Linked DNA regions of Homo sapiens. The protein of the gene in region 1 purifies or fractionates together with the protein of each later gene. This does not show direct contact. Each region holds a gene or a part of one and is shown in the gene's direction. Other genes may lie near its edges. The genes, in order: UMODL1, ITPRID2, ANKLE2, APAF1, FNDC3A and SNX3.

Region 1 (5,631 bases):
TGGACTGTGGAAGACACACCCCGGCATTGTTGGACACCAAGTGCTGGAGAATTCTCTCCCTGGTGGGTTACAGTATGGGGTTGTTTTTCTCCTCAGAGTGTTTACATGGACAGGGCAAATGTGAAAAATCCCTCCGGCCATCATGCAGGAAAATATGTATAAAGGATAACTGGAGAAAAATGCCTTCCATGGACAAAACACAGACAGAAACACACACACACACACACACACACACACACACACACACAAACAGCAGGGGTATCTTTCATTGTGCCTCAATAAAACAGAGGTTGAAGGAGACACCAAGCTAGAAACAGACTGTTAATTTTGGGATTTTTTTCTTTAATCATTTTAATATAAAGAGACAGCATGTTACAATGACATTTTATGGATGATTATAAATTATTATGAAGTCCTCAACTGGTAAAATGTCTTGATTTTGTTCCCCTGTCTTGGGGTCTGTGGTTAAATCATGACAGACCAGCAGTGGAGTGGAGTGTGAAGAACTGCGGCTTGAGGCTTAGACAAGCCTGGGTTTAATCTCTTGTTTACTGGCTGTGTGGCCTTTCTGAACCTGTTTTCTCACCTATATAATAGGGACAAAGGACCTATTTCATAGGGCAATCGTGAAGATGAGAGACAACAGTGCACCAGACGAATTTTGAGTTTTAACCTGTAATATTATCCCTGATTTACCTTGATATTTTATAGACATTCATACATTATAGTAGCAAACATTTTGAGATGATATATACAAGATAATACAAATTCATCTTGCATTTTAAAATGTTCAGATTTACTTAAATCATAATACTTTTTATTCTTTTAGTGTTAATAAAATTTCACTTCCTTGAGTATTATATAATAGCTTTAACATTTATTCTTTTCGTATGAAAACGTTTTTTAATGAGCCAATTCTGTGTGAAGCTTTTGGTTTTCTATAAAAGCTGCTGTGTTCCAAGGACACCCGTTGTACGCAGCCCCTTTGCTGTGAGATCATTTCCAGCCTCCTTTTTGTATTCTTGTCATGGCATCTGACATTTAGTCATTAGCCAAGCAAATGCAGCAGTTCATCATCTCAGAGATTAATCTACAGAGAATAAAAGAGGTAGCAACGTTGGTGCGGGAGTTAGGCGAGAAGGTCCCTTCTGGAGGAATCGTTTTGTATCTAGAACACCAGGGAATTATGCTCCCGAACCATGCAGCCAACGTGAATCTTTGTTAATTCATCTGAATGTTTCCTCAGTAAAATCAACAAGATCTTCTTCATCCAATGTTAAAAATTGGGCTTCAGCAGTCAACACTAAGAAGTGAGAGGCAATCAACGGTGCAGTATGAAAACATCATGAGCTAGAAAGAACTTAACATGAGATTTAGAAATCTACTTCACATATACCATGATGACTACTGAAATAAAACATTAATCACCTGTATTCTTATCACTCCTCAAAATGTTTTCTTCCTGTCCCAGGGCCCTTTCTGGAGTTTTCTCCATGCTTATATAACTGTACAGAGTTGTCACTTTCATGGAGATGAAATTGCATGCGTTGCTGTTTTGACTTCACATTGTTAAGTATTTGTTTGTGCTACTAAAACTTCATGGTGAGCATTTCAACGCCCGTGTAATGCTGCATCCAGATGCTCTGTAATAATTACTCTCCCACTCTCCTGTGGCTGTCCAATTATGTAATTTCCCACTTTAAGTCATAATAGGTAATGCACATCCCTGTGACCACAGCTTCGTGCTCTCAGCCCAAGCTCCGGGAGGAGAGGACTGGGTCAAAGCACCTGGACATTTTTGTGACTTTTGAAGTGCATTGTGGAACCGTGTGAAGGACGCTTTTCTGAACGTGATGTTCCACTTTGATTTGATGCTGTTTTCTTCTGCCAGTTCAGAACGATAGGGTAAGAGAATACTCCGTGTTGATGGAGAGACTCAGATATGAGTCTCAAATGTGTTTTCTGCGTAACAACGAGATGGGATCCAGCGATGCGGTCTGGGCTTTTGGGTACTCACCTTTCCTAAAAGATGCCATCTGCTTGGAGCAGAATAGGCTGTGACACGCAGGAGCCCCCAGGGAAACGGCCATGGCAATGGTGGGTGTTAACGAGCAGGCATAAGGGACTGCTCCCAGCGGTGCTTCCTCTGAAGTCATTGCCACCTGCAGCAGCACAGGGGACAGAAAGGCCGTTTCTCCAGGTCCAGGCAGCTCAGGCCCCTATGAGCCCTGGCGTAGCAGAGACCCAGGCTTCTTGGTAGAGGCCCAGAGCCCTGTACTGCCACCACTGCCGGACGATGCTCAGGACCTCGGGGCTGGCACTGCTGGCTCTGGTCAGTGCTGTGGGCCCAAGCCAGGCCAGCGGCTTCACAGGTGAGGGGTCTGGGCTTGGCATGGGCAGTTCTTAAGGACAGGGGCTTCCTGGCATGGGTCTCATGAGGACAGCCCCCTGTGGAGACCTGGGCAGGCAAGGACGCCTCTGCTTGGAGAGGCGACATCTGTTCTTTTGTGGACAAGCTTTTTGGTAAGCGCACATGGTAGCAGCTGTGGAGGTGGGGCAGGAGTGCCGGGTAGGGTTTTGGGAAGAGGACTCCCCCAGTGGGAACCTGTTGCTGAATCACCTGGGCGTTCGTGGGGGTAAAATGCAGATTCTTAGCCAGCAGGTCTGGGGTGCAGGGCCTGGAACTCTACATGTCTGTGGGTGATGCAGATGCTGTGGGTCCTCAGATCCCACTGAGAACAGTGAGCTCCTACAGACGCAGAAGAAAGGTCTCCTGAACCTTGGTGCATTCAAGTCCTCACTTACAGATTTAAAAAAAAAAGGAGACCTAGCCTGGGCAACATCATGAGACCCCATGTGTACCAAAAAAAAAAAAAAATTAGCCAGCCATGGTGGTGCACACTTGTGGTCCCAGCTACACAGGAGGCTGGGATGGGAGGATCACTTGAGCTTGGGAGGTCCAGGCTGCAGTGAGCTAAGATTGCTCCACTGCACTGCAGCCTGGGCGGCAGAGCAAAAGCCCCCAAACAAACAAACAAACAAACAAAAAAAGCCACAATACAAAAACAAAAAAGAAAGGGAGACCCAGAATGGATCAGGGACTTGCCCAGGCCACACAGCTCACAGGGCAGAGTCACCACAGGAGCCAGAGGCTGCACCAGGGCTCTGTCCGGAGTTTTCCCAGGCATGCGGAGAGCAGGGCAGCTTCTTAAAAACACACGGGAGTTCTGAAACCCCAGAATCCAGGGAAATGGGACTGCGGAATTTTAAAATCATTTTCCTCTTAAAATCTGTCATATTCAGTTACAAATTTAAAGGAATCCATTCTGTTTCTAAAATCAACTATGTTTTTGTACTACTTTAACGTTTTTCACCCAGAAGCAGGATTTTGCTTTGTGATTTGTGAAATGGATTTTCCCATTGGAACAGGTAATGTGTAGACCCCACAGTTCAGATGCATAATGGGTGGGTATCCTGGGAAGCTGGAGAAGGTCTTAGGAGGTGTTTCCAGAACCCCTCATTGTATATGAGGACACGGGGCAGAACCTCAGCAACCCCACACGTGGTCGCCCCGAATTTTCCCTGTGTGCCAGCACTGCCTTCACAGGCATGACCCCACTTCAGCCTTTTGCAGCCACAGGACATGGCTGTTATTTCACAGATGACAAGAGAGGGGCACTGGGAGGGCATGACATGGGCGCAATCATGCAACAGGGGTTTGTGAGCCTGGGTGTGAGCACAGGTCCATCTGACCCCAGGACTCTTGTTGGCCCCAGAGCATTAGGCTTTCCCATCTCTGAGACCGGAATCCAAGACCCCCGGCTCCTGCTCTGATGGCCCTTGTGGGTCTTTGCGGGATGGCAGGATCTGCTAACTGCTTTCTTCTCTGGGCTTGGCCAAGAAGCCAGGCTTGGGATGGCACGTGACCTCGGATAAAATGTTAAAAACAAAACAGGGCAAACATCTCCCGGGTTCCACAGGAGATGAGTGTGTGTGTGTGTGCGCGCGCGCGTGTGTGTGTGTGCGTGTGCGCATGTGTGCAGGACGGCTCTGCTGCGGACCAGCTGGGGCCATGTAACGATCAGGTGGGGCCCTGGCACCTCTCTAGAGACCAGGAGCTGTAAGTGTCCTTAATGTGGTTGGCATCTCTGCTCAGGTTACGATGAAAAACGCAAGCTAGATCCACTCTGCTAAGTTCTTGGTGCAGGAAGTCCTCGGCCTTTGCCTAGCTCGGCGTGGTCACTGAGTAGGTGAGCGCGTTCCTTCCGGCCATATTCCACCGTTCTTCATGCAAGTCACCTCTAGGCTCTCAGCCAAGCTGCCCTGGTCCCGGAAGCTGATTTGTCCTGTTCCACCCCGTACGATGAGGACCTCCCGTTCCTTTGCAGAGCTCACAGTAACTACCCCACTGGTGATGCCAAGCAGCAGGTGGTCCCCATCCCCAGAGGCCCTGCTGGGCCCGCAGGGTGATTTGGGGTTCAGCCCCCAGAGGAAGTTGCAGCTCCAGTCCCTGTTGCTTGTGGAGTGGGGTCGCTGTGCAGCAAGTGTGTGGTCCAGCACCTGTGTTCTGCCCAGAGCAAATCTGCAGCCTCTTCCCTCACCGTGTTTGAGGGCTGGCTCTGCCCTATTTCTTCCTGGGGTGAGTAACAAGCCCCTGGAGTCCTGCTTTCTGCACACTTGTAGGTTGCTGCGAGGTCCAAGGAGGGAATCTTCAGAGATGCTGCCCCAGTGGAGCGAATAAGGACAGCAGTGGTTTTGTGATCATTTCTGCTCCCATCTCTGTGTTCCTCCCCAGAAATCAATCCAGCTACTCATTGAGGGAAATCAACTGTAATACTGAGCCCCCACCTCTTGGGGGTACAGTCTAGTAAAGCTTAGAGCTCAGGGGTTGAGTGTCTGAAATGCAAGCACTGTATGTCAAATCCTCCGTTCATCCTGCACTGAGAGTCCATGTACTCAGGGCCCCCTGCTAGGTGCCACGGGGGAGCTGGAGGGGACCCTTCACCATCCCTGTGTGCACTGGCTAGGGCTGCTGTAACAAAGAAACACAGCCTGCGTGGCTTAAACAGCAGAAATGGATTCGGTCACAGGTCTGGAGGCCGGAAGTCTAAGATGAAGTTGCGGGCAGGGCTGGCTCCTCCCGAGCCCCTGCAGGAGTCTCTGCTCCGGGCCTCCAGCTTCTGGAGCTGCTGGCAATCTTTGGTGTTCCTTGACAGGTAGAAGCATCACCCTGGTCTCTACCTTCTCCCTGTGTGCCTGTCTGTCTCCACATTTCCCTTTAGTATAAGGGCCAGTCATATTGTATTAGGGCCCACCCTAATGTCTCCACTTTAACTTGATACCCTCTGTAAGACATTACTGCAGATAAGGTCATATTCTGAGTTACTGGGGTTTAGGACTTTAACACACTAATTTTTGGAGGAACACAATCAATTCAAACTAGGCAGTAGGGGCTCCCGGGGAGATGGGAAGCCCAGGCACCACGTCAGGGGATGTCCATGACCAAAGAGTCTCGTGGTGAATGTCATGGGGCCAGGGGTCTCGAGAACGGAGTAATCACGTTGATGGAGGGGCGATGGGCCTTGTGTAAAGGAACCAGGCTCCAGTGAGAGATATGTGGGGCCCAATAGG
Region 2 (5,159 bases), on another chromosome or scaffold:
AAAGTTTTTACAAGTTATGTAATGTTTTCCAGTAGATTTATAATAAAGCTTTCTTGTACAAAAAATAAGAATTTTTAATTATTTTACTGGTGTTTTAAAAGCTATTTTATAGCTCATTGATCAAATTGCATAGATTATTCATAGCTGTATAGCTCAGTTATTAATGTGTACTTTTTTAAAAAAAACAAGGATTTTTAAAAAGTCTTTAAAGCTTACAAGTTGGTGAATAGTGAATTTATACATTGAATTTAATATTCTTGATTTTTTCCTGTTTCAAATGCATCTGTAAAGTAAATTACTTATTTAGAACCTTCTAACATTTAAAACTCTGGAATATGCAAATATATTAGTTCTTATTATTTCTGTTCATATATTTTCAAGCTCTATAAAGAGCTTAAACTTACTGATTCCCACTCAGTACAATTGAACATGTTGTCAATCCGTTATTAAAATGCACTTTGCACTTTTGATATTTGCCTTGGTAGTTTGATAATATTGAATGATTTTATTGGAAACCAGAACCTAAAAAGGAGTCTCATGAAAGAGTAAATCTATTATGTTGTTTTACTGAAAATTATTTCAAGGCTATTTCCATTCATTAAGTAAATAATTACTGAGTGCTGTGAGTTAGGCACCTTTCTGGTGGATGTACAAAGAAACACAAAATTGTCATAACTTTGTAGATCAGAAATGAAAAGCAATTCATGTGTGCTGAAATAGATGTGTTTATAATTAATTTTATTCTTTGTATTTGTCTATAAATTTAACTTTAAACATTAACACTTACCTGTTTAGAACTTTAAGCTAAAGTTCTATCATAAAGTTGAAAGGCAATTTTTAAAAGAAAGTTTATATTGAAATAAGTAGAAATTTTCATGTTATATGTGTGAAAAATCAGTTATAACCTTAAAAAAAATTCACATTAGAAACTGACATATACTATTGCCACACTTAATGTTAAATCATGTTTTCCTCTTAAGATATTATTCATTAATAGCTTTTAAATTTAATAATTAGTACCACATATATGGTACATATCTTCCTCATTACTTATTTCTAACCTGTTAAAGAAATTTAACTGGTTCCCTATACGTTTTTTTATTTTAAGCACTCAAGTGAGAGTAGTTAGTTTCATGTTGCCACAACACAAAAACACCCTTCAAAAGCTCCTGGCCCTGTTCTTATCTATCTGTATATCACTTTTAATAATGCAGATTTAATGGACCAAGATAAGTGTTTAATATATTTGGCATTTAATTCTAATATTGTAGGTAATTAGATTTCTTGATAATTGTATCATAGTAGTTATAGTCCTACTAACAATTGTGCTCTACGTTTATTGTTTTTACCTGTAGCCAACCACCTCCATGAAAGTGATGCTCAAATTGAAAACTGGTATGTAGCTGTTTTGTTCTATTTCTTTTAAAAAATGAAGACCTTTAATGAAAATAAAGTTATAAAGTTTTATATAATCTGATTTTGTTCGTAGCAATAATATCTTGGCCAAAGAGAGAAGATTACAGTTTCATCAGAAAGGGAGAAGTATGAATTCCACTGGATCTGGGAAAAGTAGTGGGACAGTTTCAAGGTAACTTATTCTGAAATTGTGTTGGAATTACATTGTGCTATAGATGACCTACTCTTATCATTTTTTCAATCTTGGATTTGACCTTGATCATATGAAATCAGAAAGAACACAAAAAGAGCGTTTCCTGTACCAGCACAACTGATAGGAGCTTTTTGTTTTGTTTTGTTTTGTTTTGTTTTACTTTGAGATTAAATAAAATGCAATAAATAGGCTTATACTGCTGCTGGAACCCATAAATGAGTATTTTGAGCCCTCTCAACAGCCTGAAAGAGGAACTCCATAGCGGAGTAACTTGTAGTTGTAGAGAACCAAAATTCATTGTTAAGGACTTGAGTTAACTCTGACACAAAAATCAGAATAAATTTTTCTAAGTTACAGCTTGATATTTAAGCATACTTTTTTTCAACACATTAAACCAAAGATCTTTCAAATATATAGTATAGCCAGGCCCAGTGGCTGACACCGGTAATCCCAGTGCTTTGGAGTGTCAAAGTGGGTGGATTACTTGAGCTTAGGAATTCAAGACCAGCCTGAGCAATATGGGGAAACGGCGAAACCCTGTCTTTACAAAAAATGCAAAAATTAGCTGGGTATGGTGGGATCCACCTGTAGTCACAACCACTTGGAAGGCTGAAGTGGTACCCAGGAGGTTGAGGCTGCAGTGAGCTATAATTGTGCCACTCCATTTCAACTTGGCTGACAGAGTGAGACGCTGTCTCAAAAAAGCCAAACAGAAAAATACCCTTGCCCCTCTCCCGCCCGCACATATAGTATATTAAAATACATCAGTGCATGTGCCTATGGAATCCAGTTTAAACTGTTATCCAAATTATAATATTAGAATCTGAGCATTTTGTCTGAAACAAATTGAAATGTCTCTCTGTTGAAGTTCCATCTCTAACTTTCCTGTTTTCTTCAGTGAGTCTTAGAAAGCTTGGATTATCACTGGTATGAGAGAGAAGGGATACTAAATATTTAATTCCCAATAGGATTAGAGTAGTTACCTTTGTGTAACCCACACTCTCTGTACCTTACTCCTCCTACTTCCTGAGTGGAAGTGGTTGGAGAGAAGTTGAAAGTAAGCTCCTCCCTCGCTTCTCTGAAATCAGCTTGTTATCTTTATTGTTCCTCCTAGGACAATTGCCACTCCTAGGACAAGGATAACAGAAAAGCTCAAATTTCACAAAATGTCCCTCAGTTCCTTTTAATTTCTGCTTTAATCTGTTCATTCCTTATTCTTCATCATCTGTCTTCTACTTGTTTTAGCTGCTTTACAGGGAATCTCTTAAAATGACAAAACAAATAAGGTGAGGAATCACGTAGGGAATCTCTGACTGTGTTCGTTGGGGTTAGCTCTTTTCTGCAACTCTAGCAACTTGAGACAATGAACCCTTTATAAGGGCTATTTATTCCCCAGTACACATGTGTAAACATGGTAAAATAAATAATGGTTTCCAGAGCAGAAGCTGAGAAAAAAGATTTTATCACAGGAAATCAGTAATATGTATTCATTTATAATGTGGTGTGGACTATCAATTTATTTTATATTTTCATGTTTCCTTTTTTGCCCCCTTTTTTTGTAGTGTTTCAGAATTGTTGGAACTTTATGAGGAAGATCCTGAAGAAATTCTTTATAATCTTGGATTTGGACGTGATGAACCAGATATTGCTTCTAAAATTCCTTCCAGATTTTTTAATTCATCATCCTTTGCCAAAGGGATAGATATTAAAGTATTTTTGAGTGCTCAGATGCAACGGATGGAAGTAGAAAACCCAAATTATGCTTTAACAAGTAAGATTTTTAAGTGTTAGGCATATTATTTTCTTAAATTATAGCATCTACAGCAAGATGGTCTTATTTTAAAGCCTTAATTTTCAGGAATAGCACTGGAAAGTAAAGAGATTGATTAACGCAAAAGCCATTTTTACATGTTAAAATTAAGCTATTTTATTACTCCATTTATAGTGGTTAATTTGCCTATTTTTCCCCTCCTCCCCAATTCCTGACTTAAGTGCTACCATAACTTATTTGCAGAACCTTATTGTTGTCTACAGATTGCTTTTATTCAAGAAGAAAAGAAGTAGGAGAGGAGCCTTGTTAATCTTAAATGAAGTCAGTCTGTTTCAGGAACTAGTCTGGCTAATTTGATCAGTTTCACTCATATCTTTGCTTGTTTTCTTTCTGTTAGCCAAAGATTCCAAAAATAGGATTCCAATCCTGCATTGTTCATGGATCAGTTTTAAGAGATCAATAAATCCCTCACCCTGCAAATTAGGTATAAAATATATGCTTACATGCATTTTCTTAGGAGAATTTTGAAAGAGTCTTAATGGAGTTCAAGACTTCAGAATAGAATCACAACTGTAGATTCAATAGCTAGTTCTTTCTGTTTTATTCAATGTTGCCATTATGCTTTGTGCTTATTTCTGATTTTTTAAAAATACAAATTCTAGTGCTTAGAGTAAAAATCTTGCTCCTTCCCACCCAGTGAATGTAGAGAAGGTTTAAGTGTTAGATGAGGAAAAAATAGGGTTTTATAATCTTTGTGATCTAAGTGTAGTTTTTGGAATTCTAAACAATAATATGCATTTAATATATGTGTATGTATATATATAAATATAAACATATCATTAATATTGTTTCTTTTGGTAGGCCGTTTTCGTCAAATTGAAGTGCTTACTACTGTGGCCAATGCGTTTTCTTCTTTATATTCTCAAGTCTCCGGGACGCCCCTGCAGAGAATTGGAAGTATGTCCTCAGTGACCTCTAACAAGGAGACAGACCCACCTCCACCTTTAACTCGAAGTAACACTGCAAATCGTTTAATGAAAACACTCTCAAAACTGAATTTATGTGTTGATAAAACAGAGAAAGGAGAAAGTAGTAGTCCTTCTCCATCAGCTGAAAAAGGAAAGATTCTAAATGTTTCAGTGATTGAAGAAAGTGGCAATAAAAACGATCAAAAGTCTCAAAAAATTATGAAGAAGAAAGAGTCATCTTCTATGTTGGCTACAGTTAAAGAAGAAGTCTCTGGTAGTTCAGCAGCTGTTACGGAGAATGCTGATAGTGATAGAATTTCTGATGAAGCAAATAGTAATTTTAACCAAGGAACTGAAAATGAACAAAGTAAAGAAACTCAAAGTCATGAGAGTAAACTGGGTGAGGAATCTGGTATTGTAGAATCCAAATTAGATAGTGATTTCAACATATCCAGCCACAGTGAGCTGGAAAATAGCAGTGAGCTGAAAAGTGTCCATATATCCACACCTGAAAAAGAGCCTTGTGCACCACTGACAATACCATCCATAAGAAATATAATGACACAGCAGAAGGACTCCTTCGAAATGGAAGAGGTAGGTAAAAAATTACTGAGACTGGTTTCAAGTTGCAGACTAGGAAAAAAAGTACCAAAAATGCTTATAAAATGAGAGGTAGCTAATAGATTTATACTAGAAAAATTTATTCTAATTTTGACTTTCCAGGTTTATGTTTCACAAACCAAGAATTGGTCTCAGGATAATGTGATGTCGAGGTAATGGGACAGTTCAGTAACTCCTCCAGATCTTTATC
Region 3 (4,574 bases), on another chromosome or scaffold:
CAGTGCGTATCAGACACCAGGACGCAGAGAGCTTCACACGGTGCGTATCAGACACCAGGACGCAGAGAGCTTCACACGGTGCGTATCAGACACCAGGATGCAGAGCGCTTCACACGGTGCGTATCAGACACCAGGATGCAGAGCACTTCACACGGTGCGTATCAGACACCAGGACGCAGAGCGCTTCACACGGTGCGTATCAGACACCAGGATGCAGAGCGCTTCACACGGTGTATATCAGACACCAGGACGCAGAGCGCTTCACATGGTGTATATCAGACACCAGGACGCAAACGCAAAGCGCTTCACACGGTGCACATCAGACACCAGCATGCAGAGAGCTTCACACGGTGCATATCAGACACCAGGACGCAGAGCGCTTCACACGGTGCATATGAGACACCAGGACGCAGAGCGCTTCACACGGTGTATATCAGACACCAGGACGCACACGCAAAGCACTTCACACGGTGCATATCAGACACCACGATGCAAAGTGCTTCCAAAGCACAGATGCACTGAATGGAAAGAGCATGATGGAAGAGGTTAATCTACAAAATCTAAAAGTGATTCATAAAAACATCAACGATGGCCGGGCACGGGAGCTCAGGCCTGCAATCCCAGCGGCCGGGCGTGGCGGCTCACACTATAATCCCAGCACTTAGGGAGGCCAACGTGGGTGGATTGCTGAAACCCAGGAGTTCGAAGGCAGCTTGAGCAACATAGTGAGACTCTGTCTCTATTTATTTTTTTAAAAAAACAGAAATTTGCTAATAACTAGAGATTCGAATCTGCTAAAATACAAATTAAAGCAGATATACAGTTTAAACTGTGTGTGTGTGTGTGTGAGTGTGTGTCTGTGTGAGTTTGTGTGTGTAAGGTCATAATAGAACCATTAGCCCGCAAGACACTTCATTTATAAAACAAACTCCCTGGAATGATAGAAAATGAAAATGATTGACATACATTAAACTAAGAAGCAGTGAATCTTCAACAGTCACGACCTGTGACTCTGAACCACAGAACTAGAGCGACGTCAGTGCCGTCGTTATACAGGAATCATTGAAGTCTGACCTTGCTGTGTTGTAGCTGATGGTGGCACAGAACTCACTTCTGTAAAGCGGCCTCATTTACAGTGTTGTCTTGTGACTATGTACATTTTAATTAGTAAATATTAAATAAAGTTGAGGCATTTCCTAAGTAGCAGGAGCCACAGCTCAAGTGTTCTGGATCCTCCTGTGGCCGCGGCCACCATCGTGAACACCAAACGGGACATTTCTGTTGCCTGTCGCACAGTGCTGCGCCCGGGAGCTCTTCTGTGTTATCTTCACACCTAAAGCGCAGCAGGGTTACTTCATGGAGTTGTTCTGGACGATCTTCGGGATCCTCTGGGGCACTGTGACACTCGGAGCCCCTGGGGTCGCAGCAGATCGGAGCTGGAGGGTGGCTGGGGGTGCAGGGCAGTCATCTCGCCCATCACCTGGGCTGCCCTTGGCGTTTTCATGTCCCTGCCTTTGAAAGAAAAGTCAGCCTGGCAGCTTTATTTCCCTCCTCGTCTGAAATAGGGTCTCACTCTGTGGCACAGGATGGAAAGCAATGGTGCAGTCACAGCCCACTGCAGCCTCCCCCTCCTGGGCTCAAGCGATCCTCCCACTTGAGCCTCCCAAATAGCTGAGACTACAGGTGCGTGCCACCATGTCAGCTAATTTTTCTATAGAGAACGGGGTTTCGCTATGTTGCCCAGGCAGTCTTGAACTCCTGGGGTCCAGCGACCCCCCTGCCATGGCCTCCCAGAGTGCTGGGATTGCAGGCGTGAGCTTCTGTGCCTGGCCCCAGCAGCCTGATTGTGTCTGGAGGGTCCTGTTTGCCCTTTTCCAGGGAGTCGTGTGGGTGGTTTTCCATCCTGAAATCTGATGAGGAGGTTTTGGATGCAAGAGTTGCTGTTGCTGGGGTCACGGCAGTTGGTCGCGGATGGAGTGGGGAGGTTTTGGGTATAAGAGTTGCTGTTGCTGGGGTCACGGCAGTTGGTCATGGATGGGGCGGAGCAGCTCCGTGGCTTCCTGTCGTTCCCATCACTGAAGTGCTCCTTGTTGTCCTCACAGGCAGCAATTCCATTTCCGTGAGGGCGTTTCTAGATGAAGATGACATGAGCTTGGAAGAAATAAAAAATCGGCAAAATGCAGCTCGAAATAACAGCCCGCCCACAGTCGGTGCTTTTGGACATACGAGGTGCAGCGCCTTCCCCTTGGAGCAGGAGGCAGACCTCATAGAAGCCGCCGAGCCGGGAGGTCCACACAGCAGCAGAAATGGGCTCTGCCATCCTCTGAATCACAGCAGGACCCTGGCGGGCAAGAGACCAAAGGCCCCCCGTGGGGAGGAAGCCCATCTGCCACCTGTCTCGGATTTGACTGTTGAGTTTGATAAACTGAATTTGCAAAATATAGGACGTAGCGTTTCCAAGACACCAGATGAAAGTACAAAAACTAAAGATCAGATCCTGACTTCAAGAATCAATGCAGTAGAAAGAGACTTGTTAGAGCCTTCTCCCGCAGACCAACTCGGGAATGGCCACAGGAGGACAGAAAGTGAAATGTCAGCCAGGATCGCTAAAATGTCCTTGAGTCCCAGCAGCCCCAGGCACGAGGATCAGCTCGAGGTCACCAGGGAACCGGCCAGGCGGCTCTTCCTTTTTGGGTAGGAGTGTGTTGCCCTCTGCACTCACTTTCCTTCCCCACCTTCCCTCCCCCCTCCCCCTCCCCTCACCTCCCCCTCCCCTTCCCCTCCCACCCATCCACTCCCCTCATCTCCCCCTTCCCTCACCTCCCCCTCCCCCTTCCCTCACCTCCCCCTCCCCTTGCCTCCCCTCCCCCTCCTCTCACCTTCCCCTCCCCTCCCCCTCCCCTCCCACCCTCCCATTCCCCTCATCTCCCCCTCCCCTACCCCTCCCCTCATCTCCCCCTCACCTCCCCCTCCCCTATCCCCCCACCCCATCCCCTCGACTCTCCTCTCCTCTCCTTTCTTTCAGATGGAGTCTTGCTCTGTCGCCTAGGCTGGAGTGCAGTGGTGCGATCACAGCTCACTGTAACCTCCACCTCCCAGGTTCAACCAATTCTCCTGCCTCAGCCTCCTGAGTAGCTGGGATTACAGGCGCCTGCCACCACGTCTAGCTGATTTTTGTATTTTTAGTAGAGATGGGGTTTCGCCATATTGGCCAGGCTGGTGTCGAACTCCTGACCTCGTGATCCACCTGCCTCGGCCTCCCAAAGTGTTGGGATCACAGGCGTGAGCCACCGCACCCGGCCTCCACACAAGCTTTTGTGTGGACTTGCCGTGTGCGTTCAGTTCCTGTCTCTGAGTCCAGCTTCTAGATGCTCTTTCTGGGTCTTCCTCTGGTTGGACCGTGGGTGATCCTAGTGTTGGCTGTTATTTGCTAGGGATGTGCCTGCCAGTGGTGTGAATGATCTCTTCTAAATCCTTCTAGGAAGAAAAGCCATCTTGGGGTCAATCTCAATCTAACAGGGGATAAATGTCCCTAACCTTCTGGTACTGAGCACCCTCTGGGGGTGCAAGTATGCAAAACTGCATTTTAACAGCGGGTGGATCCTGCTACCATAGAGAATGCAGGCGTGCACCCAGAGGCGACTCCTCCCTGGCCCCTGCTCTTCTCATCACAGAACAGCGAGTCTGCATCCGCCTCCCTGGCCTTGGGAGATGCCTCCCTCTGCAGAGCTAATGCCCTGACATGCTGCTGCTGGTTCCCTGGTTCCATCTGCTCAGGCCAGATCGATCCTTGCACACTGTTGTTTTGTGTGCTGGGTTCTTGAGTTTAAAATGTAGTGATATTTGTCTGGGTGTGGTGGCTCACGCCTGTAATTCCAGCACTTTGGGAGGCCGAGGTGGGTGGATCACAAGGTCAGGAGTTCAAGACCAGCCTGACCAAGATGGTGAAATCCTATCTCTAATAAAAATACAAAAAATTAGCCGGGCGTGGTGGCAGGCACCTGTAGTCCCAGCTACTCGGGAGGCTGAGGCAGAGAATTGCTTGAACCCGGGAGGCGGAGCTTGCGATGAGCCGAGATCACGCCACTGCATTCCAGCCTGGGCGACAGAGCAAGACTCCGTCTCAAAATAAAAAAAAAAGTAGTGGTATTTTAGAAGTCTTTATGTTTTTACCAAAGATGTTTTTGCTTCTTTTATTGTGCTTTCTAGAGAGGAGCCATCAAAACTCGATCAGGATGTTTTGGCCGCTCTTGAATGTGCAGACGTCGACCCCCATCAGTTCCCGGCCGTGCACAGATGGAAGAGTGCTGTCCTGTGCTACTCACCCTCGGACAGACAGAGGTATGTGGGGCCCGGACAGCCTGTCACCCGCAGGGCAGCTTTTGGAAACTTCTGCAGGGTCCAGTTCCACTTCATGCGAACCTATCAGTGGCTTTTCCCAACGCTGGCAGGCCCGTCAGCCAGGCTGTGGATTTGGGTGTTGTGGCTCTCTGCACACAGGACAGAGCTCTGGTTGGGTGGAAAAGCTGAACGGGTCAGCTCCTGACAAGCTGAGGGCTAGAAGGGTGGAAGCA
Region 4 (5,159 bases), on another chromosome or scaffold:
TTCTGTTTTCAATGAAATTATTTATTCACTCATTCATTTGTTATTTGTCTAGTACTTTTGGGCCATCTACTATATATCCTTTATTATGAAAGTCACTTTCTGAGCTTTGAGGAATTGAGTAGATAGATCAAGCAGACATAAAGAACATTTTAAAATCTAATCCTCTTAACTTTGCTAGAACTTATCTGTTCTTCTAGTTGTCATCACTCTAGTTCTTATATTATACAGTCGACCCTCCATATCCGTGGTTCTATATCCATAGATTCAACCAACCTGGATTGAAAATATTAGAAAAGAAGTAGATGGTTATGTTTGTATTGAACATGTACAGACTCTTTTCTTGTTATTATTTCCTAAACACGATGGTATTACAACTGTTTACATAGCATTTACATTGTACTAGGTATTTTGAGTAATCTATAGATGATTTAGGGTATACAGGAGGATGTGGTGGGTTACATGCAAATCCTATACCATTTTATGTAAGAGACTTGAGCATCCATGGATTTTGGTATCTGTAGTGGGTCCTAGAACCAATCCCTCATCAATACTGAGGAACAACTGTACTTGTTTGTTTTATCACTTCTACTAAAGTGTAATACTTTGTAGGCAGGATCTAAATATGATTTACCTTTGTGTTCACTTTTATCACTTGATCTGTCTTGTGTGTGGTTAAGTTTTTTGAAGAATGATAGTAGTGGCACCTTTATGTGTCGGGTGCTGTTTAGAATAGATACCATTACTTCCATTTGACATATGAAGAAATAAAAACTTGTTAGGTTAAGTAATTTGCTCATTTACACACCTAATAAGTATTAGAAATGAGGTTAGGTTTGTCTGACTGCCAACCCTTGATTTCTAAAATAAGCACAATACTATTTGACATATTTACTTGTACTCAAAGTGACAGGGATGTAACGTATATGAAATTCTGTCACTGCACTAATAGTTTTTTCTGGTTTAAGTATACATTACATTCCTTTACACCTTATTATTTATTTATTTATTTAGAAACAGACCCTCAGTCACCCAGGCTGGAGTGCAGTGGTATGATCTTGGCTCACTGCAACCTCCACCTCCAGGGTTCAAGCGATTCTCATGCCTCAGCCTCCCGAGTAGCTAGGATTACAGGTGTGTGCCACCATGCCTGCTAATTTTTGTATTTTTAGTAGAGATGGGGTTTCACCATGTTGGCCAAGCTCATCTCGAACTCCTGACCTCAAGTGATCTGCCCGCCTCGTCCTCCCAAAGTCCTGGGATTACAGGTGTGAACCACCATGCCTGGCCCCTTTATACTTTAGATACTATGAGCAGTAATATAATATCTATACTGGTGGAATAGTTGATATTCATTAGATTGAGATACAAAGAATATGATGTTGCTTTATCTTTTTGGTATGTCTGAATAATTGTAGTTTGAGAGAAGCAGTTTTTTTTTTTTTTGAAATGGAGTCTTGCTCTGTCGCCCAGGCTGGAGTGCAGTGGCGCGATCTTGGCTCACTGCAACCTCCATCTCCCAGGTTCAAGCGATTCTCCTGCCTCAGCCTCCCAAGTAGCTGGGATTACAGGCACGTGCCACCACACCCAGCTAATTTTTATCTTTAGTAGAGACGGTGTTTCGCCATGTTGGCCAGGCTGGTCTTGAACTCCTGACCTCAGGTGATCCACCCACCTTGGCCTCCCAAAGTGCTAGGATTACAGGCATGAGCCACTGCGCCTGGCTGAGAAGAGCAGCTTTAAAGTACATCATAATAATGGTGGGTGTTTCCTTCAGTTAGGAAATGAGCATTTTGCTATGATTTTTATTTTAAAAAAGAGATGGAGAATTTTTGAAGGTATCCTTATATAATGATTTATCTGCACATGTATCATTATTAATGTATCAAAGGAAAATGGAAAGTGACATGTTGATTAACTAGATTTGATTAATTTGATTAATTAGATTTCTTCCAACTCAGTGACATTTGTAACACGTGACAGGTTGCTTGATAAAGGGTAACATTTCTCTTACAAATGCTACTTTTGTTATTTTTTTTCTTTTGGTGATCTGTGCTGTCATTTGCATGTTAGTAATCTGATTTTAAGAATTTTGTATTTTGGGGAACATAACCATGTTAAAAGACAGTTTATTTTAGTACTGAAAGAAAATAGTTACTTTTACTCTCATTTATTTAATTTCTGTTCATTTTTTCCCTGTATTTAGAAACAAAAAAAACATCACGAATCTTTCCCGCTTAGTTGTCCGCCCCCACACAGATGCTGTTTACCATGCCTGCTTTTCTGAGGATGGTCAGAGAATAGCTTCTTGTGGAGCTGATAAAACCTTACAGGTAAAACACATCTCTTGAGAAAAATGCAAAGAGGCATGTATCCAGTTTTGTGCAGATCAGAATATGTTTAAATCCTAAAATTCAAGAAAATTGCAACTTAGAAATAACAGAGGAATCCAGCTCTCTTGAACATTTTATTAAAGGTTTCTCTAGAGATTTAAAAGATACAGTTACATGTTTTCCTAATTCTAAACTTACAGGTGGTAAGGAAGTGCCCTTTACCCTGCCAGTCAGTTCCCAGCCATCCATTTGTCAGCTAAGGGTAGTGAGGAAATAATTGTTAGAAGACGTAGGGCTTCATAGCACAGGGAATAGGGCTGTGATTAAAAAACAGTGATTAGGAAAATACCTATTTTATCAAAGTCTTAGGCATAGGTTTTTTTCTTGTAAATAGGAACTGGACTAGACTATTTCCTAAGTTGTTTTAAAGAATTTCCTTTAAGATTCCCTTTGTTTTCAGAAAATATTAATGAGTACTTTTCTTTATGTTTGTGTTCTGCCTTTTGATTTTGCAGAGAACATGATGAAATTAGTTAAAACTTGTATTTAGGATACTTTTAGTCTTTGCAAGATTATGACTCCATAGCTTATGTCTATATGTGTACTTTATTACTAATTTTATTAATCTTGGCTTTTGAGTTCCAGAGAGAATGCATATTAAATGAAATGTTTTATTTGATTGTTAAGAATTTGCCAAAATAGTCTCAAGAGCTGAAGCTGTGCTCTGACACTTCTTTTTGATGGCAGCGGCGGGCTGCCTGGAGTGGCTGCTGCCATCATGCTGGCTGCAGCAGGGAGGCGCAGCTGGGGCTGCATGCTCTGTGGAGCTGGCGGTAGCTGGGGACAAGCAGGAACCCTACCCCTTCTGAATTGGGGCAGGAGCTCCTGGTTCCTGCTGTAGCCGCCCAAGCCACAGCTGTGGACCTGGGAACCCGCTCCATGGAGCAGGCCAGAGCCCTGCCCTCCTGGGTGTAGCTGTAGCCGCCCAAACCACAGCTGCAGGCTCGGGCCTCCGGCTCCACAGAGCAGGCAGGACCCCTTCCCCCTGGTGCAGCTGTAGCTGCCCAAGCGGTGGCTGCAGACTCAGGCATCCCTGTACTCTTGGGGGACCTGGAAGGACCCCCTGCCCTTGTAGGCTTGGAAGTGCCTGCTCCCGCTGCCTGACTTCTCCCTACTGTTGGCACCCACTCTGATCTTAGAGCAAAGCTGGGGCTGAGCCTGGGTGCTGTTGCAGCCCGGCCAGATGTGCACATGCTTGGGGCAGTGCTGACATGCCAGCCCCCTGCCGCCTCGGCCCCCTCCGGACTTTGGGTGCTGATGAGCATAGGAGGGAAGCCAAGGGGGTGCTGAGGGCAGTTTGATACTGGCCTGCAGGCTCCCCTTGGCACCTACAGCCTGGGTGCCATTCATGGCAGCAGGAGGCAGACAGGTTCCTGGGTGGAAGGGGGCGGGTCACCAATGAGGCCCCACCTTCAGGCCACAAAGGGCCTGAAGACTGGGGGCTGGGCTGCTGGTGTGGACTGAATGGACTGGAGTGGGAACTTATAGTGCCTTTTCCAGGCTTGCCCATGTCTGCCCATGGACCAGTTGGCATGTACTTCCTCCCTTCTGAAGCCCATAAAAGCCTCGGGCTTAGCCAGTGCTGAGCAGACACTGGGACAACCAGCTGCAGAGAGGAGCAACCCACTCTAGTGCCCCCTCTTTGCTGAGAGCTGTGCAGATGACAGGAGGACCAGCTGCAGAGAGGAGCTACCCTCTCTGCTGATAGCTGAACACTTGTCAGGAGGACTTGCCTAGCAGAGAGGAGCTACCCTCTCCTGAGCTGTGGAAAGGAGCTGCCCCCCGCAGGTTTATTGAGCTATTTTATCGCTCAATAAAGCTCCTGTTTGTCTTGCTCACCTTCCACCTGTCAGCGTACCACATTCTTCCTGGTTGTAGGACAAGAACTTGGGATCCCACTGAATGGTGAGGCTAAAAGAGCTGTAACACAAACAGGGCTGAGACATGCCCCTTGCTTGCCGCATTGCAAGTGAAGATAAGTAAAGAAAAGCTGCGGCCCTTCGGGGAGCCCAGACTTGGGAGCTCCCCAAGCTAGGGCTGTGACTCCCTCTTTGGGGCCCCGCGGTTCCTGGCATCTCCAAGCTTCTGGGCACCACCGTGTTCCCCGGTGCCAGCGTGTAAGCTGCTTGTGGTGTGCCTGGTCCAGCCACAGCCTCACAGAGAGCCAGAGCCCATGCTGGCACCTGGAGCTGCCTGCCCCGCTGCAGCAGTCAGCACGTCTGTGCGCAGTGGCTGGACCCCACGCTCACTCACACACGCCTCGCTGTTCCACGCCTGACTCGCCCTTGGCAGGCTTGGGACCCAGGCTGGTAGTGTGAGCTGAATGCAGCCTGTCAGGCCAAGTGGGTGAAACAAGACCAGTGGGCCCAAGCAAAACTTGGGCAAAGGCGCCACCGGCCACAGAAGTTTCTGGCCAGAAAATCAACACCCCAAAGATCCTGTAACATTTTCATTGATATTTACAAACATGTAACAGTGAATAGTTCTCTAGTTATGTGAAGGCATACACATTCTGACAGAAATTCTGATTTTGGGAGTAGCTTTGCCAAGGTTCCTTTCTGTTTTGCAAAATGACAATGATTAAACTCACTTAAAGATTTTTATTGAATGATGACCAGTAGTTAAGCAGTTTATTATAAAAAATATTTTATTGTTACTTGTGCAGGTGTTCAAAGCTGAAACAGGAGAGAAACTTCTAGAAATCAAGGCTCATGAGGATGAAGTGCTTTGTTGTGCATTCTCTACAGATGACAGATTTATAGCAACCTG
Region 5 (5,159 bases), on another chromosome or scaffold:
ATTTCTTATAAGGGATACCCAACCTGTACCATCTCCCAAACATGGATCATTTCTACATTCTATTCCCTGAAACATTATGCATCCTTAGAACTAATGTATAGTCACCATTTTCTTTCAGATTTATCTTAAAGCTTCTTTCAGTAAGTTCCTTTATATATTGTTATCAGCATCCACATTTTTATTTATTGCCAATAATTCACTAATTTAATGTCCTTTTATTAAGTACCTACTATATGCTAGATTCTGGAGACAGAAAAATGAGACAGAGATCTTACTTTACTTTGAGAGCAAAGCAATATGTAAAAATTTAGATTTACATCACAGGTACAATTGAGGCAGCTAAAAGTACTTGAAAGCCCCCATGTGTTGGTTCTTCTGACTTGTAGCCCACCAACTAACTGGAGAAACTCAACTGACAAGTCATTTAACCCTATGAACCTTGGTTTTCTCAATTACAGAATGAGTGGTGGGAGGTTGCTCATTATTGGAAATGATAGCTCCTACAGATTGAGCAGTGACTGCATGCTGAGCACTGCGCTAAGTGCTTTAACAAGCATTAGTTCATTTCATCCTCATAATTATCATACATGTTAACTACTAGTATGTCTGTTATACTAAGGTAGTTGGTCTAAAATCACATCTGGAGTGTGAAGTGGTAGAGCAGACCTTGGATGCCAGGGGTGAACAGTTCTAGTATATAGCTTCTTATTTATGCCTAGTGTTCCATTATTGGAACACTAAGCTTGTGGTAGTTATTTATATCTCACTGATCAAGGTTATTGCCAAGGTCTGATTTTTCACAAAAAAAAAATTTGCAACCTCTGGCATAAATGGGTTAATTACTAGCACATTCCTCTGAAAATCCGTGGAATTTCATTCTTTTTATTTCCCTTGTGAGGCATGGCAGAGGAGGTCCTATTTTCTGATTCTAAGTGATCTCCCCTCTCTGGTTTATACAGTGATTTGCCATAGGCACCTATAGAAAGCTCCCCTTATTCATTTTCCATTTCATTGTACAGATATGTTTGAAATTATATGGAAATTTATCAGTTATACAAAGACATAATGGGGGAAGCAAAAGTAGACACTATCCCTTCTTTGATGGAATGATTGCATTGAAAAATGACTTCTTACATTTGAGAAAAGCAAGAAAATGCTTGAGGACCGATTTTGCTTGTTCTCTAGCTGCCCTGGGGCACATCTGCACTCCTTAATTCATCTGTGAACCGTATAAGGGTAGATCCTCGCTTTTGAAATTTCTCTTGCCCCTATGCAACAAACAGATAAGTACTTTAATGGACAGGTATTTTTAACATGTCATTTAAAAGATAAAATCAATGGCATTCACTGGCTTTCACATGAAAAACAATTCTAACACTAGCCAGTTTTAACACATTTTCTGTCCAGCCTTCACACGTAATTCTTCCTTCTAATATTTTATTAACAGATTTACAAGGGTCCCGACTCTTCCTTCCGGTATTCCAGCCTTCAGCTGAACTGTGAATATCGCTTCCGTGTATGTGCCATTCGCCAGTGCCAAGACTCTCTGGGACACCAGGACCTCGTAGGTCCCTACAGCACCACAGTGCTCTTCATCTCTCAGAGGACTGAACCACCAGCCAGCACCAACAGAGACACTGTGGAAAGCACAAGGACCCGACGGGCACTGAGTGACGAGCAGTGTGCTGCCGTCATCCTTGTGCTGTTTGCTTTCTTTTCCATTTTGATTGCCTTTATCATTCAGTACTTTGTAATCAAGTGAAAATATAACTTTATTTTTTAACTCTATTACATTTTATTTTGTCATGTACTAAAATTATTTCTGTATTGCTTTTATAAAAAACAGTGGCATTTAGCACTGGCATTGAGACTATAGCACATCATTTTTGCCATTTTCAGTGCTTATATTGTTAGGTAGAGGCTGGCACTTTATTAGAATGCAAGCCACAAAAATATCAATTTTGTTTTTTTTGTTAGGGTGGGTCTTCTTTTTTTCTTTCCCTCTCTCTTTTTTTAACAAATGCCTTCTTATAGAAAAACTTTCTAAGAGGCAACAATTTAGAATGGATATTTTGACGAATCGGCATGAGTGTAACAGTGATAACCTGATCTGTTTGTTTTAAAGATTATTACCAAGTGAAAAATTCAGAATGAATAGAATTTACACTAACATGCTATATAAAATGTTAAAGTCTGATGCTGTGAAAGCAATCTAGTGCTATATTTCTACCTCCTCATTTGTCTTAATTATTTGGTAAGTGGGATTATGATGAGTAACTGGAGGGGCTTAGAAACAAAAACTGGATGAAAGAGTATGCATGAAGAAAAGCTTCTTTGATAAATGTGGAGTTCTTCATTATAAATATATATTCATGAATTCACAGATAAGTACTTAAAGAACAGACAGTTTACTTGGCCTAAAAATATTTTGATGTTTACTCAAAAAGTACCTCTTCAGGTCTTGAGAACATGGAAAAGAATTGAGTGCTTTTAAATACTTTTTAGAAAGTAATCATAAAAGTAAATTGAATTTCAAACCTATTTGGCTTCTGTTTTGTGAACCTTTGAACTATATGTATGTGTATAAGGGTATACACATACATATATGGCATATAACAAGTGTACACATATACACATAACAAGTGTAGAAGTATATATTACATACATACACTCACTCTGTCTGGTATAGGCTAATTTTGAAGAACTCCCATAAGTTTCTGCTGCTTCTCCCATAACTGCTGCCACCACCATCAGAATTCATAATCAAACCTAACCTTTTTGTTTGGGGCACCAAATCTGAAGACAAAATTAATTTGCACCAGTAAACTTCAAGCTGCTTTCTTTCTTGAAAACTAAACGTTTAACGTATAATGTCTGTTTGGATACTGTTCCAAATTGTTGATTGCATGTGGTTAATGTTGCATTAGAGCACTTTGCAATTGCATAATTCATTAATGTTTTGTGAGCTTGCATTTGTGAGTTATTGGATGATCAGACTGAATTTTGTCAAGTATCACATTGTACATCTTGCCTAGATGTCGATGACTGCAAGTAATAATACAGTTTATAATGAAACTATCTACAATTCTTGTTTTAGCACATCTGTTATCCGTAAAACACCTGTAACTAGCTTTTTTAATTTATTATTTGAATTTTAGGATAGCGAATCACTAATTTTTAGTTGCTGAGGTTGGCATTTTAGTGATTATTAAGCACTTCTGTCAGTCTTTGAAAAAAGAACGTATTTTTTGTGCTTTGAAGATCTCTGAAGAATTTCTTTTATAATAGAATGGGCATGTATTGTAACAGTTTTATGTCAAATGATCTGTGCTGTAGAAAAACATTAACCCTTGTTCAAAAAAGAAATGGATAAACTTGGCCTTTCTAAGTGGTAAGAATGACCTGTCACTATAATATACTGTATGTTTACATTTTATTTAAATTTAATCTCTTATGTATAGGGTGATAACCTTCCCCAGAAACAACAGTGATTGCGATTGTTTTCTAGAAACTTCTTTAAAGTGCCACATTTGGCAGTACAAATGAGTCTGAGTGTAATAGCCCAGAGATTTATATATAGTTGAATGTCTAAAATGGTAAAATGTGCCACTGTGTCAAGTTACAGTGGCTTATGTTTTTCATAGTAATTCAAATGAACTTCCTATTTTTGATAGTAAATGTCATTTAATAGTATACTTGCCATTTGAGCCTCACTGCAAAATTAGTGCAGAGGAGAAAACAATTTTTAATGTAATCTTGATTTTACCTCATATACTGTACATTCCAAAAACTCTAAACTTTTTAAAGATTATAGATACACTACCAAACATATCACCTTAAAATTGTATAAGGCTGAATGAACTTCATACAAATGAAAAAAATCTCATAAAAATACATAAACTATGTAGCAAAAGTATCTGTAAAATCCATGGAAAATAAAAGTTGTATCATTCTTTTTGAGATACGTTTATTGTATTCATATATATTCATTATTTGCTACCTGTTTAAGAAAGTGAAATGTTATGGTCTCCCCTCTTCCAATGAGCTTAAAACATTTTTCCCAACAGTATATAAATCTTCAACATGAGAGGATGTATATTTATTATATAAAGCCCAGTAAAGAATAAAATTAGAAGTTTTATCCTAGTGACTTGATTTTGTGCAACTCATGAAATATCTTACTTCCTTTCCACATATAAAGAATACAGTGAGTCTAAGGTAAACTTCCCAGTGGGAAGAAAATCCCTAACCTCTCCTTGCCTTTCCCACATCCCTATTTTCTAGTACCTTCTTTCGCCCACCACCAGAGGCCCAGAACCTTCCTGGTAGTGGCACTGCTGGGTCTGCCTTCCACCAGAAAATCCAACATTCTCTCACTCATCCCCCATTAAAATTTCCATCCCAAGAACTTCCTCCTGGGGATGGACACTCAGTGCCTTTTTTTTTTTCTTTTTTTAATGGGTAAGCTAGTAAATTTTATGTTATAAATATTTTACCACCATAAAAAAATCATTGAAAAATTCACTGAAGAAGCCAATATGGAAAGAGGAGAACTCAATGTTTAAAATAAAGCCAACTTTTTTTTTTTATTCAAGAGGTAAGTACATAGCTTCAAGCTCAAGGTCTAGGTTGAGGACAATCATGAGTCCTATTAAAGGACAACCAGTTTAAAGAACACTGTCAGGCAAGCTACCACGTAGCTCTCCTTCACTCCAGGCTTAGCTGTTCCAGACTTCCCAGTACTGATGAAGGATCATGTTTTTGTTCAGCTTTGCCCAGTGCTGTCATTCATAATAGATAAATGAAAAGTCCCAGAAACCTGTTGTGTTTGGGAAGGTTTTCTTTTGTTCCAGGCTTCAGTGGTTAATATGCTTGACAAATTTCAGAGTCTCTATCTCTGTAGACCAATGCCAAAGAATTGCTTTCTGGATTCACTGTTAGCAGCTCTTCGTCTTCATCTTTGGCAATGTAAGAAAACCACCATATTCTGGCCCCCAGCCTTCACAGCCACAGTGGAGAATTAAGTCTAGGGCAAAATCAGCCTTGCCATGGTCACGAATTAAAAGTGTGGTGACCAGTCTTCCAACGCCTCAGTTCCCTTTGGCATGTGGGAACACCTGATTCATTCTTTGTTTCATTTTCCTCTGACTCGGTCTGTC
Region 6 (5,159 bases), on another chromosome or scaffold:
GGCAAATAACAATTAACAAAGGCATGTTTTGAGTGTGGAATAACATAGTTTTATGGACTCAGTGGATTCCAGGAAACCAACTTAACTTTTTTGAGATGCAGGTAATTACAGTTCTCTGCTCTTTTAATGTTAGTTTGGGCCCTGACATAAGCTTTAAGTGACTGTTAATATTGGGTTTCTAATATAGAACCCTTGAGAGCTATCCAGATTATTTGAGCCTCTGTCTTTGCTTCAGATTTATGATGAAACGTGATTTGCAGAACTTTTGAACTCCATGAACAAAATTGAAGTCTAAAGTAGTCCAGGGTTACTCAAACTCAGAATCTTCAGCATTTACTAGTATATACCTATACAAATAGATGAAGGCTGTGGCTTACTTTTTGGTTCTTGCCCTATGCTGTACTTTACTTTTGCTTGTCTCCCATCTTACCTGTCTGTGATCACTGTGCCCACATCGGCTGATCTATTGTTATTTCCCACAAATAACATATTTCTTGTATTTCCTACAAATATTATTTCATACAGATGGTTGTATTTAACACTTTTACCTGTTAAGAAATAAAATGAACAGTAGCTAGGAAGAAAATTGTGGCTTCCACTTTATACTCAGCCTGATACTAAGCAACTTCTCTTAAAATTAGGGGGAAAATATGAATATTAGAGTGAGAGAATACTAAATCTTGCTGTTTAAATTTCAAAAGTTTTAGTCATCTTAAAGTAAGTTAACAATATTTAAGCCTGATTTACATTTAATTTCAGAATTCAGCATTCTTTCTGGGTAAATCTAGAGCATTTAAAGTGGCATCCAAGATAAAACCTTTAAGGGATTTTTGCTGTAATTTGCCTCAGTAGTCTGACTCTTGTCCATACATTTCAAAGCAGATAAACCTAGGAATCAACTAGAGCCATCTGTTCTTAATTCTACACCTTAATGCTACATGCAGCTCATCTGTGGCTTCTACTTCTGTAGTAACTTCTCTGTTCTATTTTTTCTGTTCATAGCTATCATTTTTCTATTCAAACATATTTATTAACTCCTGATGCTCACAGGTAGTCACCTTAGCCCCATATTTAGAGTGCAATTTAAACTTTTCAGTTTTATTTCCCATCATTCCCTATGCTTTAGAATATTCAAGAATTATATACTAAATATACACTGTACTTGTTTCTTCTCTGCATTTAGCTCACACTATTTTCACCATTTTCAGCTGTCTTATAGTATGGCTAGCTCTGTGTTAAAAGAGTCCTGGCTGAGGCCATTGCACTCGCGCCATTTTACCCTAGCATGGGCGACAAGAGCGAAACTCTGTCTCAAAAACAAACAAAACGAAAAAGAGTCCTGACTGGCCGTACGCAGTGGCTCACACCTCATATTCCAGCACTTTGGGAGGCTGAGGTGGAAGGATCCCTTGAGCCCAGGAGTTCAAGACCAGCCTGAGCAACTTAGGGAGACCCTGTCTCTAAAGGAAGGAAGGGGAGGGAGGGAGGGGGAGAGGGAGGGGAAGCAGAGAGACTGAGGAAAGGAAAGAAAAGGAGGGGAAAGAATGAATGAATCCGGGCCAAATCAATTGTCAATTCTTCCGTGCTTTTCATATTATACAAATGGTATTATGCTATATAATATACTGTTCTGAAACTTTTTTTTTTTTTTTTTTTTTGAGGTGGAGTCTCGCTCTGTCGCCCAGGCTGGAGTGCAGTGGCATGATCTCACCTCACTGCAACCTCCGCCTCCCGGGTTCAAGCGATTATCCTGCCATAGCCTCCGGAGTAGCAGGAATTACAGGCTCGTGCCACCTCACCCGGCTAATGTTTGTATTTTTAGTAGAGATGGGGTTTCACTGTATTGGCCAGGCTGGTCTTGAACTCCTGACCTCAAGTGATCCACCCGCCTCAGCCTCCCAAAGTGCTGGGATTATAGGCATAAGCCACCGCACCCAGCCTGAAACTTTTTACATGTCATACATTCTAGACAGCTTTTCTGATTAACCTATGGCTGAGTTATATTTTGTAAAAAGCTGTGTAATATAAGCTTGTAATGTAAGATTTATTGTTTCTGGTCTTTTTTGGGGTTTTTTTTTGTGTCTATTACAATGCTAAAATATTTTTGTATGTGTGGAAATATTTGTAGGATTAATTCCCATTGAAATTGTTCATTCAAAAGTTATGTGTATTTAATAGAGTAATGGATAATGTATTCACCAAAATGCCCCCCTTTTTTTTGAGACCGTCTCCCTCTGTCACCCAGGCTGAAATACAGTGAGTGATGTGATCACAGCTCATGCAGCCTCAGCCTCGAAGGCTGAAGCCATCCTGACACCTTATCTTCCCACTACAGGCATGTGCCACCATACCCAGCTAATTTTTTTTTTTTTAAACAGAGTTTCGCTCTTGTTGCCCAGGCTGGAGTGCAGTGGCGCAATCTTGGTTCACTGCAGTCTCCGCTTCCCGGGTTCAAGCAGTTCTGCCTCAGCATCCCGAGTAGCTGGGATTACAGGTACCCGCCACCATGCCTGGCTAATTTTTGTGTTTTTAGTAGAGACAGGGTTTCACCATGTTGTCCAGGCTGGTCGCGAACTCCTGACCTCAGATGATCCACCCGCCTTGGCCTCCCAAAGTGCTGGGATTACAGGCATGAGCCACCACGCCCAGCCTGCCCAGCTAATTTTTTATTTTTTGTAGAGATGGGGGTCTCACCATGTTGCCCAGCCTGGTCTCAAACTCCTGTGATCCTCCCACCTCAGCCTTCCAAAGTACAGGGATTACAGGCTTGAGCCATCATGCCCAGCCAGTTTGTAGTATTTTTAACCATGGAAATTCAACTTTTTATATGCTTATTTTCTAACCTTGATTGGTGTATGTTTCATAAGGGCCAGGTCTGCATCTTATTCATCATTATAAATAATGATTCTCCCTTATCTAGCATGGTGCCCTTTTATAGATGATCAGTAAATAATAGTTTAGTCCTCCTGAAGCTGTAGGTAAAAAACCTCTCCGCCCTTCAATCATTTTATGAAAGTTAAATAAATTGAAAGTGACCAATCACAGGAGTTTCAGCAGTGATAGTTCAGTACCTTAAACAACAACAACAACAAAAAAAAAAAACCCACATTTTGCACTTAGTTATTTTAATCAGTTACATTGAATTACAAATCCTTGTAATGATGAGGAAGACGTTTAACAGGCTAAGTTAACCACTGCATATGTAATGGGCAAGTGATGTTTGAATTTCTTGATGTGACTTTAAACTCTAAAGCAGTCCTCATGCAAAAAGAGAAATCATAACCAGTTAAGAAAACTAAAGGAACTTTCTTAAGCTAATCATGGTCCTCTAAATTTAAGTATATAAACTATCAAACTATTAGCTAATCATAGAAGGGAAAGTACTTTTCCCCCTCACCCCTCCCCTTTCTGTTAGAGTGAATCAGATATAATCATGATTGTGTCAAAAGTTCAAAAGGGAAAATGGAAGGTAAAATGAGCTGAATTGGCACTCTTCTCTCAACATTGTACCTGTAAGCTTGATATGTTGTTTCAGAGATTAACTTTATAGACTTCCGTACCCAGAAGTATGAAAATTCTTAGGGGACTCTTTTCGCAAGCTTGATCTTAACGTATTTGAATAAAGAGAGCAGTTAATCCCCTTTGTAAAGTAATTTGAGAGGAGGGAATTCAGAATGTAAAATCTCACCTGCAGAAAACACTCAACTCTGTAAAGGCCTTTTTATCTTTAAGGCATTTACAAAGACTTAATATTTTAATGCGGAAGGGTGAACTTGGTTAAAAAGCCAATAGGTGAAATTAGAGAGAAATAATCCAGTGCTTTCTTTCTGGGAATTATTCTACTCTCCAGGGGACCTAATTTTATTCCCTGTGGGGAATGAGAATACCCTCTGTACAACAAGCCAGCATCTTTAAATATAAGCTTGACTTTTAGTATAATAAGAGTCTTGTTAGGTGCAATTTTTTCCTTAGTCATTTATACAATGAACAAATGTTGTGGTTACCTGGGAAAGAAAATTCAAGTGCTTTTAAATCTCTTGTGAGATTTGGTTTCATGCTTGAAACCTATACACTGTTATGCCCAATAGCATCTGTTGAAAATTCTGAGCTGTAAGGTATACAACATAGAGAAGTTAATACACTTAGGAAAAAATTGAGACCACTACAAAATGGATTTAAGGGCCTGAATTAAAAGCTTTTCTTGTGCTGAGTGACAGCTACTTACCAGTAGCATTAAGCTTAACAAATAAGTAGAACTTTCTTAGGAGTGAATATTACAAGATGATGTCCCTGTATACACAGTAGGAAGCCAGTCTTTCCTTCAGGTGGCACTTAACTTTTTTCTTCCAATTGTAAAACACTTTTTAGTTCTATGCAAATTCTGTGCTAATTAGTTCAAAGTCTGAATTAACGGACAGAATATAATCTAAGAGAATATATAGTGTTGAGTAGTATTTTTGGTAGGGTATGGCATTAGTTATTATGTTAAGTCATTTCTGTCTCCTACAAACTTTGTGATAATTTGCACATTTTAAAATCTTTTTGGCTGGGCACGGTGGCTCATGCCTGTAATCCCAGCACTTTGGGAGTCCAATACAGATGGATTGCGTGTACTCAGGAGTTCAAGACCAGCCTGAGCAACATGGTGAAACCCTGTCTCACCAAAAGTACAAAAATTAGCCAGATGTGATGGCATGCGCCTATAGTCTGAGCTACACAGGGGGTTGAGGTAGGAGAAATCACTTGACTTGACCCTGCCATGATCATGCCTCTGCTCTCCAGCCTGGGTTACAGAGTGAAACCCTGTCTCAAATAAAATTCTCAAATAAAATAAAATCTTTCTTCTCCTTTTTTTTTTTTTTTTTTTTTTTGAGAGAGAGGGTCTCATTTGTTGCCCATGCTGGAGTGCAGTGGTGCAATCATAATCATAGTTCACTACAGTCTGGAACTCCTGACTCCTGGGCTCAAGAGATCCTCCCACCTCAGCCTCCCAAGTAGTTAGGACTACAGGCACATGCCACCATACCCAGTAAATTTATTTTATTTTTTGTAGAGATGGAATCTTCTTATGTTTCCCAGGCTGGTAACTCTTGGCCTCAAGCAGTCCTCCCATCTCAGCCTCCCAAAGCACTAGGATTACAGGCATGAGCCACCATGCC

The links.
Region 2: the proteins of UMODL1 (region 1) and ITPRID2 purify together in Homo sapiens (affinity purification with mass spectrometry; one large-scale study listed by BioGRID and IntAct). This does not show direct contact.
Region 3: the proteins of UMODL1 (region 1) and ANKLE2 purify together in Homo sapiens (affinity purification with mass spectrometry; one large-scale study listed by BioGRID and IntAct). This does not show direct contact.
Region 4: the proteins of UMODL1 (region 1) and APAF1 purify together in Homo sapiens (affinity purification with mass spectrometry; one large-scale study listed by BioGRID and IntAct). This does not show direct contact.
Region 5: the proteins of UMODL1 (region 1) and FNDC3A purify together in Homo sapiens (affinity purification with mass spectrometry; one large-scale study listed by BioGRID and IntAct). This does not show direct contact.
Region 6: the proteins of UMODL1 (region 1) and SNX3 purify together in Homo sapiens (affinity purification with mass spectrometry; one large-scale study listed by BioGRID and IntAct). This does not show direct contact.

Annotation. Positions count from the first base shown.
Region 1 is NC_000021.9:42,069,021-42,074,651, forward strand, and holds the start of UMODL1 (uromodulin-like 1 isoform 1 precursor), read left to right. Parts: upstream 1-2,296; coding exon 2,297-2,372; intron 2,373-5,631.
Region 2 is NC_000002.12:181,897,525-181,902,683, forward strand, and holds part of ITPRID2 (protein ITPRID2), read left to right. Parts: intron 1-1,355; coding exon 1,356-1,395; intron 1,396-1,489; coding exon 1,490-1,588; intron 1,589-3,171; coding exon 3,172-3,380; intron 3,381-4,241; coding exon 4,242-4,942; intron 4,943-5,159.
Region 3 is NC_000012.12:132,727,799-132,732,372, reverse strand, and holds part of ANKLE2 (ankyrin repeat and LEM domain-containing protein 2), read left to right. Parts: intron 1-2,102; coding exon 2,103-2,694; intron 2,695-4,209; coding exon 4,210-4,341; intron 4,342-4,574. UniProt on the Homo sapiens protein: Involved in mitotic nuclear envelope reassembly by promoting dephosphorylation of BAF/BANF1 during mitotic exit.
Region 4 is NC_000012.12:98,675,222-98,680,380, forward strand, and holds part of APAF1 (apoptotic protease-activating factor 1), read left to right. Parts: intron 1-2,203; coding exon 2,204-2,330; intron 2,331-5,055; coding exon 5,056-5,159. UniProt on the Homo sapiens protein: Oligomeric Apaf-1 mediates the cytochrome c-dependent autocatalytic activation of pro-caspase-9 (Apaf-3), leading to the activation of caspase-3 and apoptosis. This activation requires ATP. Isoform 6 is less effective in inducing apoptosis.
Region 5 is NC_000013.11:49,205,634-49,210,792, forward strand, and holds the end of FNDC3A (fibronectin type-III domain-containing protein 3A), read left to right. Parts: intron 1-1,447; coding exon 1,448-1,762; 3' UTR 1,763-4,146; downstream 4,147-5,159. UniProt on the Homo sapiens protein: Mediates spermatid-Sertoli adhesion during spermatogenesis.
Region 6 is NC_000006.12:108,225,759-108,230,917, reverse strand, and holds part of SNX3 (sorting nexin-3), read left to right. Parts: intron 1-5,159. UniProt on the Homo sapiens protein: Phosphoinositide-binding protein required for multivesicular body formation. Specifically binds phosphatidylinositol 3-phosphate (PtdIns(P3)).